Homo sapiens: one gene and its partners. The protein of the gene in region 1 interacts with the protein of each later gene in a pairwise test. Each region holds a gene or a part of one and is shown on either strand. Other genes may lie near its edges.

What was found. The genes of interacting proteins can lie anywhere in the genome.
Region 2: the proteins of ARHGEF10L (region 1) and ANXA9 interact in a two-hybrid assay, tested with the Homo sapiens proteins (one large-scale study listed by IntAct).
Region 3: the proteins of ARHGEF10L (region 1) and SCN2A interact in a two-hybrid assay, tested with the Homo sapiens proteins (one large-scale study listed by IntAct).

What each region holds. Positions count from the first base shown.
Region 1 is NC_000001.11:17,633,698-17,637,197, reverse strand, and holds part of ARHGEF10L (rho guanine nucleotide exchange factor 10-like protein), read right to left. Parts: intron 2,651-3,500; coding exon 2,636-2,650; intron 2,364-2,635; coding exon 2,182-2,363; intron 1-2,181.
Region 2 is NC_000001.11:150,981,158-150,985,091, reverse strand, and holds the start of ANXA9 (annexin A9), read right to left. Parts: upstream 2,801-3,934; 5' UTR 2,713-2,800; intron 2,606-2,712; 5' UTR 2,509-2,605; intron 2,003-2,508; 5' UTR 1,987-2,002; coding exon 1,912-1,986; intron 1,755-1,911; coding exon 1,658-1,754; intron 1,118-1,657; coding exon 1,023-1,117; intron 812-1,022; coding exon 698-811; intron 507-697; coding exon 416-506; intron 1-415. UniProt on the Homo sapiens protein: Low affinity receptor for acetylcholine known to be targeted by disease-causing pemphigus vulgaris antibodies in keratinocytes.
Region 3 is NC_000002.12:165,308,914-165,312,413, reverse strand, and holds part of SCN2A (sodium channel protein type 2 subunit alpha), read right to left. Parts: intron 3,250-3,500; coding exon of another isoform or gene 3,158-3,249; intron 3,063-3,157; coding exon 2,971-3,062; intron 2,092-2,970; coding exon 1,819-2,091; intron 390-1,818; coding exon 326-389; intron 1-325. UniProt on the Homo sapiens protein: Mediates the voltage-dependent sodium ion permeability of excitable membranes.

The DNA of each region.
Region 1 (3,500 bases):
GTGCCAGACTCCATGCTAGAGACTGGAGACAGCAGTACACAAGACAGACAGGGTCCTCATTCTTCCGGAGCTTATGACCTTGGCAGGACAAGTGGCGGAGGAAGCAGTCAGTTAACAATGGTGGGTGGTAGGAGGTGGTGGGGAGAAAGATATCAGTGTGGTGGGACAGTGATGGGGTGAGGGGGCCCAGATCACCAGTGATGATACAGATGGAGTAAGGGTGAGATGGGGGTAGGGGGTGGCAGGTAGAGATAGAGCAGGAGGGTCCAGGAGGACCAGATGGGGAAGGCCTTGAACGCTAGGCCCCTGGGCTAGGAATTTGGACTGTATTCTCTAGGCCGTGGTTTTGCACACTGAGGTCTTATGAAGCCCCAGGGGAGTGGAGGGGAAGCCTTATTTGGGGTTTTCATTTAGATAATTATCTGAGTCACCTGTGTGGAATGAGTTTAAAGCCACACTCTGCTGCCTGATATCAAGGCTTCCATGGACTATGGCACCTGAATGGTCACCTGGTAACAAGCAAAGAGCATGGCGAGCTTGGGATGTGGACAATGTGCTCACATCAGAGGGGCTCTGCAGTGACCCAAACTGGGGAGCTCATGGGAAATGCAGATCCCCACAGGGCACCCTGTGGCACAGGCACGAAAGCGCAGAGGAACCTGCTCTACCAGGGCCTGAGCCACATCCACACTGTGAACAAATTGGTTTCAGCAAAACAACATCATCCATCACATTACATTAATGCTGTTAATTTGAATGTTATGGTTTTGTAGCTTTATTTTTATTCAATTTGTGATTTGGTGTTGGTTTTATGGTTCTTCAAGGGCTATAAGCAGAAGGAGTTGATTACAGGGAGTTTTGCGTTTGTATATATTTGAATAACAATATAATGAAGGGTTCCACAAGAACTTCTTTCCCCTTTCGAAGGGGTCTGGCAGTACGTGACTCTGGTTTGAGGAATGCGGCCACAGACACATCATTGTCACCGAAGGAGGGATCCCCTAAGCGTCCCTGGAGTGCATGAAGGATGCTAGACCGCATGACCAGCAGAAAGGAACCCTGTGCCCCAAGCGGCGGGGAGGGAGTGCAGTTGAGCCAGGGCAGAAGGTGCCTCCGAGGAAGGCACGTGGGGCAGAGGACTCTTCCTACCCAGCAGAGCTGAGGAAAGAGACAGCATCTGGAAGTGGGCACAGCTGTCACGGACCAGCACCCAGACGGCAAGAGTAGGTGGTGCAATCACTCCCTCAGAATTTCCAGAATTGTGGGTGGCCCATGAGGCAGCCTCCTGGGTCAGACAGCAGACAGAGGGGGAAGTGAAACCCCAGTGCCTTTCTCACCCACAGAAGATGCCTCGGGCACCAGGGTTCCTTTCTGCTGCAATTTAGCATCCTGCATGCATTCAAGGAACACTTATTAATGCCCACCGTACCCTAGGCTCCTGGACAGAGCTGCAGCCAGGCTGAGAGGAGAGACATCAACCGATCAATCACCCATAAAGGGGAAAATGTACCAGAGGTCTCGAGAGCACAGGAGGGGCGACCTGGCCCAGCATGAGGGCATAAGAAAAGGCTTCTCTGAGGAAGTGCCATTTGAGCCAAGAGCAGATGAGACAAAAACAGGATGGCAGGAGAGTACTTGGCAAAAGGCACAGGCTGGAGAGGGCGTGGTGGGAGGGAGCATGGCCCATCCAGGAGCCCAGAGGGGCTGGCATGGCTGCAGCAGAGAGAAGGGGCAGAGGGAGGTGAGTGAGGCAGGTGGTACACCCTCAGGACCGGCAATGGGAAGCCACTGGGGCGGGATGACGTGCACTGATCTGACCTGCATTTGGAAGAATCAGCCCTGGGGATGGGCAGAGGATGGACAGGGAGGGGGCCCAGGTAGGAGGAGGGAGGAAGAGCAGCCAGGTAGCTGGCACAGCAGGACAGAGTGTGTGGCAGCCAATGTGAAGGTGGAGCAAAGTGTGTGGATTGGGAGATGCACCTGCGCACACCCAGGTGAGGCCATGGCTCTGCATTAAGGTCCAGGGTGGGGCTGCAAAACCAGCAAGAGCTTCCTGGCCAAGCCACCCATCAGCCTATGTAGGGGTCCCCAAGACAGGGCCAAGCCTGGGTAGGAGCAGCCCAGGCTGTGGCTGGTGAGGGCGAGGGTGACGAACGCAGGGCACAGAGAGGGGGTACTCACTCTGAGCCTGCCCTGAGGCAGAGGCCTTCTTGGCGCCTGAGTGCTGGATGAGCACATTGTCCTTGTCATAGGTGCCACCGTCCTGGCCCACCTCCACCACCTGCACCTGGGGCAGCGCCGTGTTCCACTTCACCACATACTTGGGCCCCAGGGGCACCAGGCTGCTGATCTCCAGCTGGCCCCTGTTGGAACAGAGAGGACAAGGCCCTGGAGAGGCTGCAGCCACCCTGCCCCAGGGCTGGCCCAGGGCATTGCTCCTCCACACCAGCTCAGCCAGGCTTCACGCAGCCCCAGCGCAAGACCTCAGACCAAAACCAAGCCAGGCAGAGCAGGGATCCCTCGCCAGGGTAGAAGCACCAGGCGCCCAGGCCCCAGCCCCATATCCAGAATCACATGGCACCAGAGCCCCAGAGCCCCAGAGCCCCAGAGCCCCGGAGCCCCCTGAACCACGTACCTGTGGTTGGCAGGCCTGGGAAAAAAGACAAGAAGGAAAGGGAGATTGTTATTACAATGGAGTGGCTAATCTGGGGGCTGTGACCCCGCTGGGGGCCAGCCATGGGGCTGGGCATCGGGAATAGAAGGAGAGACAGCCTCCTGCGGGGAATGAGGGCATCAGAGGCCAGGTGTGGACAGAAGCGGGCCTTCCTTCATCTCTGGGTCTCACAACAGCCCCGCTAGGAAGCTTAGATGATCCCAGACAAGGACACTGATCCTCAGTCAAGTGAAGTGACTCAGCCCAAATCACCCAAACTGATTCCCCAAAACCGGGCCACTAGCACCCCACTTTGCACTTTGCGCTAGAGCAACATGAAGGCAGAGAGGGTATTCATCATACCGCCGGCACCACACGGTGCCCAGGATATAAACGGGACTGAAGAATTACCTTCTTTGATTGAGTGAGTGAGTAAATGAATGAATGGGTCAGCCATAAGCCCTGCCCAGACCCATGTGTGACAGAGGCTTCCTTGCCTGAGTCCCCAACCAGGCCCTGAGCTCCCGGAGGCAGGGGCTGGATCTCATTCTAGGTGTGAACTGGCACAGAGCCAGGTCTCGGACTACATTCAATGGATTCATAGACGGGTGGACAAATGGGTGGATGGTGAATGAGTGCACAGGTCCTGAAACAGCCCTGCTTGTCCCCTTCCAGGACTCGTGATCGGTAACCATGGAAAATCCCCAAACCTACTCTGTGGCCAAACCCAGGAAGGCCCAAGCTGACTCGGTACAGGGCCTAGAACTGATTCAGCTGGGAGGCGGGAGAGCTATGCTGGGATTCACATTCCACTGAGGTGATTGTTTCCCTCCTGGATTTCGGTGAT
Region 2 (3,934 bases), about 130 Mb from region 1:
CCAAGCTGGGGTGATCCTCCCACCTCAAACTCCTGAGTAGCTGGGACCACAGGCGCACACCACCATGACCAGCTGGTTTTTTTGAATTTTTAGCACAGATGAGGTTTTCCTTTATTGCCTGTGACTGGTCTTGAACTCCTGGGCTCAAGTGACCTGCCCACCTCAGCCTCCCAAAGTGTTGGGGTGACAGGCATGAGTCACCGTACCTGGCCTGCTTCTCTTTTTTTAATGATCACATCTGGGTCTCTCCCCTGAGAGACTGAGGCACTGGTGGGGGCAAGAGGAAAGACCCCAAGGGAATAGAACTTAGGCAGCCAGGTTGCCAGATAGCTCACCTATGGGGAGTACAGGAGAGGAGTGGCCTGTCCTACAGCCCCTTCTCCAGCATCTGGGACCCCTCCCTCTATATTCTTACTGTGTTTGTAGACTGCCAGGCACTCCTGCAGCTGGGGTGGGGTTCGAGTGGCAAGAATTTCAATGGCCACGTCCACAGCAGAATCTGAGGCCTACAAGAAATTGGGAGTCTACTCTCAGACTGGCCGTGTCATTAGGATGGCAGACAGAGGGGCAGACGCTGGCTGCTTCTCCTTCTAAGAAACAATATGGGACGACGAGAGGGGGACTCTCGTCTTGCAAAAGCAAGGCTGACAGCCTTCTCCCTTCCCCAGACACCCCAGCAAGTCTCCCCTCCTGCTACCTTCAGAGCTGTCCTCAATTCCTGGGCGTCAAACTGGGCTGTGGGCTGCAGCAGAGCCATCACAATCCTCTCCAGGTTGCCGGAAAGTGCTGCCTGTAGAGACTTCATCAGGTCCTACAATAAATGGTCCTCACAGCAGAGGGACGGGGGTGAGGGGAAGGGCCCCAGAAGTGTGGGGAGGTTTGGGAAGATTTGGCTGGTTTTCATCTCAGGCCCTGTTTAGCCAGGAAGCAGGGGCTGGCCTCAGCGGCTGTTGCTGTCTCTCGAGTCCTCCAGGGGGTTTCTCACCCCAGTCCACTGCTGTGGGAGGTCAGCATGGCCTCACCTGTTGGGTGCGCTCCTGGAAGTTTCGTGAGATGAGCTGCCTTTGCTCTCTGCTCCGGTTGGTCAGCACGTCCACAATGGCACTGCGGTCCACGCCTGAACCGAGATGAGGGCTGTGCTGTGAGCAGGGTCTTTACATAGTGGGATGTTCCTACTCCTTGGAGGAGGGAAGGCGCTCCAGGAGAGGGCTGGGAAGGAAAGGAGCAGGGGCTATATCACCCCCACTTCCATTTTATCTCAAAAGAAGTTGCAAATAAAATGTCAAAACAGCATGCAAATCTGACCCAGACCAAGGCAAAGGTGGCCTGGTGTGGTGGTTAAAAAAAAATACGACTTGGGGGGATCGGCTGACCTAGATGAGAATACCACCTCCGTCATGAGCTGAGTGACCTTGGGCAAGCCTCTTAATCTCCCTGAGCCCCAGTTTCCTCATCTGGAAAATGGAAATAATAAGCCTTGCCTCACAGGGGTGTTGTGAGAATGGGTTTGACACACCTACTGTGGCGCCTGACATACAAGAATGAAGGCATTCCACAAACATTTCTCCAACATCACTAGTTCCTCCTTCCTGGCTCCTCCTTGGTCTACAGATTGGCTCTAAAAGGCAGTCTCAAGTGCCGGGGGAAAGGGGCTCACCTTGGCCAGTAATGGCCCTCAGTAGCCTCTGCGCATCCTTGTCCACGCTGAAGTTCAAGAAGGTCCTGAGGGTGCCCAGGGTCCCCCACGCTGCAGTCTGTGGGAGCACAGGGTAGTTGGCAAGGGCCAGGGCCAGGCTGCCTACACCTCCTCAGCATAACCTCAGGGCCTGTCCTCCACTTTCCTGCCTCCCATCCTCTCACAGCCCGAGCTGAGATACTAAAAGTGATCTCTAAAATCCCAACAGCCCCTACCTTGCTGGCCAGGCCCAGGTGGCTGAGGATCTCCTGGGTGAGGGACGGTGCCATCTTCCCGCCAGTCACAGACATGGTGCTACTGGTTGCCCTGGGGAAGGAAACAGGAGCCCACAGAGCTGAATTTCCTGGCCCTTCAGGGACTCCTTATGACCCCCCCGAGACCCTGGACCCTGGGTTCCAGTCACCTGTTCCTTTCCTTGCTGCAGAAAAAAAGATCAACCTGCTTAGGCTTGGAGCCAGAAATGGAGCTGAAATGGTGAGGTAAGAGGGGAGCCCCCACCTTCCCCACCTCTCCCCACTCCTTTAGGAAGTGGGGATTGATGCGGAATGCTCCTGGACCAGGCGCCAACCCTCCCTGATGCCAGGGTCAGCACCAAAGCTCCTCAGGCCTTGGTCCGCGGTAGATGCCTCCCTTCTGAGGTCTATGGCCCTCCTTCCTGGGCCTGGCTGGGGTCTCCTGGGCAGTGCAGGGGAGCTGAGGTGAGGTGGCAGGATTAACCACGCAGAGTGGAAGACAACTCGAAATAGCATCTTCCCCCACCGGCAGCCCCAGCTGACAAGCAACCCTCAATTCCTGCCTGTACAGCTGCCTACCTGCTCAGCAGCACAGGAGCACAGGCCGGAATCTCTAGGTCAGCAGGTGCAATCTCTTAGCTGATGTGAGCAAGAGTTCTTGCAAGTACGTGGATGCCTGGACAGAAAGGAGGCACTCTCATGTTGGAAAAGGAAAACTCATTTTTCCCTCCCCCAAGCAATCAACAAGCCCTCCTGGCATGGGGCCGTGGGCCCAGTACTTACTCAGAGGTGCCAGAGGTGAGGTGGGTGTCGTTGTTGTGGCCTGGTAGCTTGCCTGTGTGAGCACTGCCTCCGGTGTGGCCTGGTAGAGGAAAGTGGGGGTGTGTGCAGCCTAGGCTGAACAGCCAGTCAGATGACCTCTCTTAGGGACGAACCCAGCAGTTGTCTGACTCTGGCCCCTCCCAGACGTGGGAGAGGACCGGGCTGTACAGAGTCCCACATGCAGACACCTTCCTGCCCAGCATCTCTTCTCCCAGGAACTGGGCCTCAATCCATGTGAGTGAACTCCACTCAGCCTCTCAGCGGCTCAGCCTCAAACACAGGAGGCTTTTATGCACTGCCTTCCCTGTGGGTCCAGGTGGGACCACAGAGACCTAGTCTCAAAGTCCAGCTTCTGACCTGGCTCTGCCCCAGCTTCTGACCTGGCTCTGCCTCTGGCTCCAGCTCCCTGGGGGGCAGGTCAGACAGGCTGCAGGCTGATTTCAAGGCTGATAGGGAAAAACCTGTTGGGGCACATACCAGCAGGGCACCCCAGCCTGCACCCCAGAGGGGGTCCCAGCCCAGAAACTCCCTTGACTGCTGCCTTACTAGAGCCAGCTGACCTAGGTGGAGAGTGCCCAGGGATTGTGTATATCTGTGGAGAAGGAAGGGCACAAGTATTTGGGAGTGGAAGTTGATGAACAGAGTCAAGAGAGAAAAATGCAAAGGGTGTTACCTTCAGAGGGAAGCTCTATGCTCCCAAAAGGCAACAGGGAGATGGGGGAGGCTCCCTTGCCTGGTTTCTTAGATTGCTTCTGTTGCCTTTTGGCAGCCTGGGCCCTGTGGCTGTTTTAGCTGCAGGTGATGCAACCCCAGCAGCTGGACTTGAGGCTGTCTCTGCACAGAGCAGCAGGTGAACAGCCCTGTGGAGCCCCCGCCCCGCCATGCAGCAACTGCTCCAGCCTCACAGCTGGCTCCCTCAGGTCTAAACACAGCCTCTTTCCTGCCTCCCTGGAGAGCCTGGGTAGGGGCGGGGCACAGAAGCTACAGCCCTGCCTCCACTCACTCCTCTGCCTCTCTCCCAACTCAGGAAGGCCTTCACTGGCATTCCTACATCCCTGGAGGAGGGACCTGCAGTGGCTCCACCACACTGAGTAGACCATGCCGGAGGACACGCCATGAAAGGATATTTCTGTGGCGGTAATCACTGCTCCTCACTTTTCTCTCCTGTTAAAAGGAAAACATG
Region 3 (3,500 bases), on another chromosome or scaffold:
ATATAAAATATGACACTTATAAAAAGTATGTGCTTAAGAATTCTATTAAGCTTCAGATGCATATTATACTGCTTTATTCTCTATTTTACATTGAACTAATTTGGAAGATTAGATGTGACCTAGCATAGAAAAATAATTGCAGTAAATGACTGTGTGAAAGAGGTGAGAATCTACACTTATCCTGGCTATTCTGAGAGTCACCGTGAAGTAGAATTTATGGAGGGTTTTGAGTGAGGAGTGAGTGGGACTGGATGAGTGGGAGGTGGCAGGTTATTGACACTGATGGAGCAGTGTGGACTGAAACTCAGTAGGAAGCATCACTTACCCTGCATCTGAGCTGTTGCCACAAAGCAGAGCATCATTTTGCCCCTCTAAAAAATAAAAGTGACCTATTTAAAGAGAAAGGAATAGAAAGAATCATTAAAATCCTGTAAAACACTTCAGCCACCCTGTTTAGGTGGCAAAGCTCACAAATGTTTTCAATCATAATGAGATGGATAAACTAATAAATATATATGGCTAAAGAGATTTTTCACAATATTGAACAAATATCAATATATAACATTTTTGATTATACAAATGGTTAGCAAATCTATGTTAAAAAGAAAAATGTTCAGAAGGAATTACTATGATAACATTCTTATATCAGCATTCATTGCAAATATAAGCTCAAATTGCATGGGATACATTAAGAAAGAGCTGCCAGTCTATTGCTGGGCACAAAAAGTAAGAAAGAAGAAAGCCTTGTTGTTTCTAGGTGTTTTCATGCAAATAAATTTTACCTTACATATACTTTTCTCCCCAGGCTCAAAATAGATTCAGACATTTTTTCCCGCCAATTTTAACTTAATTTCCTGTGAGAAGTGGGATTAGGTATTTATTCCCTCTTATGATACTGTAAATAAGTGTTTTGTTTGAAATTTTTGCTTGATTTCTGCCTTTCAAATGAAGAAAATAAACTTGTTTCTTTGGAGAGATATGTTGTCTGAGTATATCTAGTTTTTATTTTTAAGCTATGGAGAGCTATCTAGTTTTTATTTTTAAGGCATGACATATAACTTCAGTAAGTTGCAAAGATGATCTCAGAAAACATGCACACACATGCAAACATACGTATTTTTATATTCACATACAAACATGCACACACATATGAAAAATGACAGAGGGGCTGGGCTCAATGTTAAGAAATCATGCTGAAGTATATGGCATAAGCTTATTCTGATGTTCATACCTTAAATATAATCAAACTAAACTGGTAACTACAATACAATGATGACACTAAAGGGACTAATTAGAATATGAATAAGTGAATGGCTAAATCAGGGTTACTTAACCTTCTGAGGAGCACACAAATTCTTATTTCATCTTGATAAATGGTTTCTCTATTTTCAGATATAGCATATGTACTCAATACATATGTTGCATCAACCAAATAGGGCCAAATTATTTCCCCTCAGTCTTCTTAACACATTTCAGTGGAATACACTGAATAGTTCAAACTACTGACTTATTTATTAAAATGACTGAAAAACCTGATTAATGTCTACCAAATAAACATTTTTTAATATGGCATAATATGAAATTACTTTCAACATGAGTATAAGACAACACATTTTCAAATGAGAACTTTTACTATATCAATGGACAGATAAGAAAAATAGAATAAGGTATCATTTGATATCTCTTTTATATGTATTAAATCATCTTAAATTAGTCTAAGTCACTTGATTCACATCTAAATTGAGATAATTTCCATTATATATAATATTTAATATTTAGAGAACTAAACAACTTAATGGTTTATAGAGTATATCTTACTTTTATCCTCAATATATTCATCCCAGTTAAATATGCTCACTGTCCTATTGAAAGTAGTACCATTCCCATCCAATGAATTGTTAAAGAAGGAAGTGATATTTATTTCAAAGGAAGAATTATCTGGAGGCCATTGCAAACATTTATTTCGTAGGTTGCCCATGAACAACTGCAATCCTATTAGCGCAAACACGCTTAGACAGAACACAGTCAAGATCATGACATCAGAAAGCTTCTTCACTGACTGGATCAGGGCCCCCACAATGGTCTTCAGGCCTACAAACAAAATCAGAAGGGGGAATTTAAATATACTACTCAACAGCTATTTTACCGGCAAAAATATCATGAGCTTGTCCTGGAAAATAAAAATGTCATGCAGAATGCCAACAATATTAGTTTAATGTTTGTGATTGAATAACATTTTCATGAAAAGCCTGCTAGCTGGTGAAAATGAATGAAAGCAGAACTTGTATGTTCATTAGAAAACTGTGAATGGAAATGAACCAAATGTGTATTTCCAAACACTCTTTAGAGCAAAAGAATGATTTTGTTATTCATGCTTAAACATCAACCTTGTGTAAATATTTTGCTTTTATTTGCAGATGTCTTACTCCCTAACCCCTTATTGGTTTTAGAAAAGTCTATGTGAATAGAGTAGTAAGAAATCTTGAAGTCGATGAATTATGAGGTTATATATTTGTGAATTCTGCAAGCTTGAGTATGGGTTAAAAAAAGGAAGACATCTGAAATCTGAGCCCCATGCAGCACTCATGCTATCCCTTGCTCTTTCATTTATCTGCAGCTTAAAAGATTGCCAGTTTTAGGCCTAAACTGTCAAATTTGCATCAGTCTGAATGTCTCTTAGTCTAGCTTCTATGCGGAAAGCTTGATGTTATAGGATGCAAACCATGTAGCCTGTTACTGCAAATGCCTCATGCAACACTTGTTAAACTCAAAGGCTGATTTAGAATAGTTTTAAAGAAAGCAACGAGTAAAAAGCAAAGAATCAAATCCATCCAAAAAATGATGTACCAATTCTTGCTTTTTTACATATTTATTTGCAATATGCAACTAGCAACAAGGCTTCTGCACAAAAGCTGTGATTGTAGCACCACTGTAGCTAAAGTCAGCCTCGGTGTTTAACCTAGCTCTCACCTGGAATGACTGAAATTGTTTTCAATGCTCGGAGAACTCTGAATGTTCTCAACGCTGAGACATTGCCCAGGTCCACAAACTCTGTCACATATCTGTAATAGGGGGTTCACACACAAACACAATGACAGAACACAAGAAACAGTTGGAGATATAAGGGGCCTACCACCTTATACCATTTTCTTCTTACCTGGAATTACAGAAATAGTTTTCAAAGCTCTCAAGACTCTGAAAGTTCGAAGAGCTGAAACATTGCCTAGGTTTACAAATTCTGTTACATACCTGTAGAATTAAATCAGAGTTATTCAGAATTTAGGGAAATCTACGTCTTCCTTGGTCTTTCATCAAGACCTTTTTAATTTCATGAGTGTCGCCATCAGCTTTCCCAATTAAGAGGAAAATGGCATTGTCATCAATCATAATCTCTGTTATTTGGGAAACTTTATTACTTTACAGTGCTAATTGAAACCAAAGCCATGTAATTTACTATGATAGTTCCTAATTTCTCCAAACTGGATAATTTGATTGGAAGA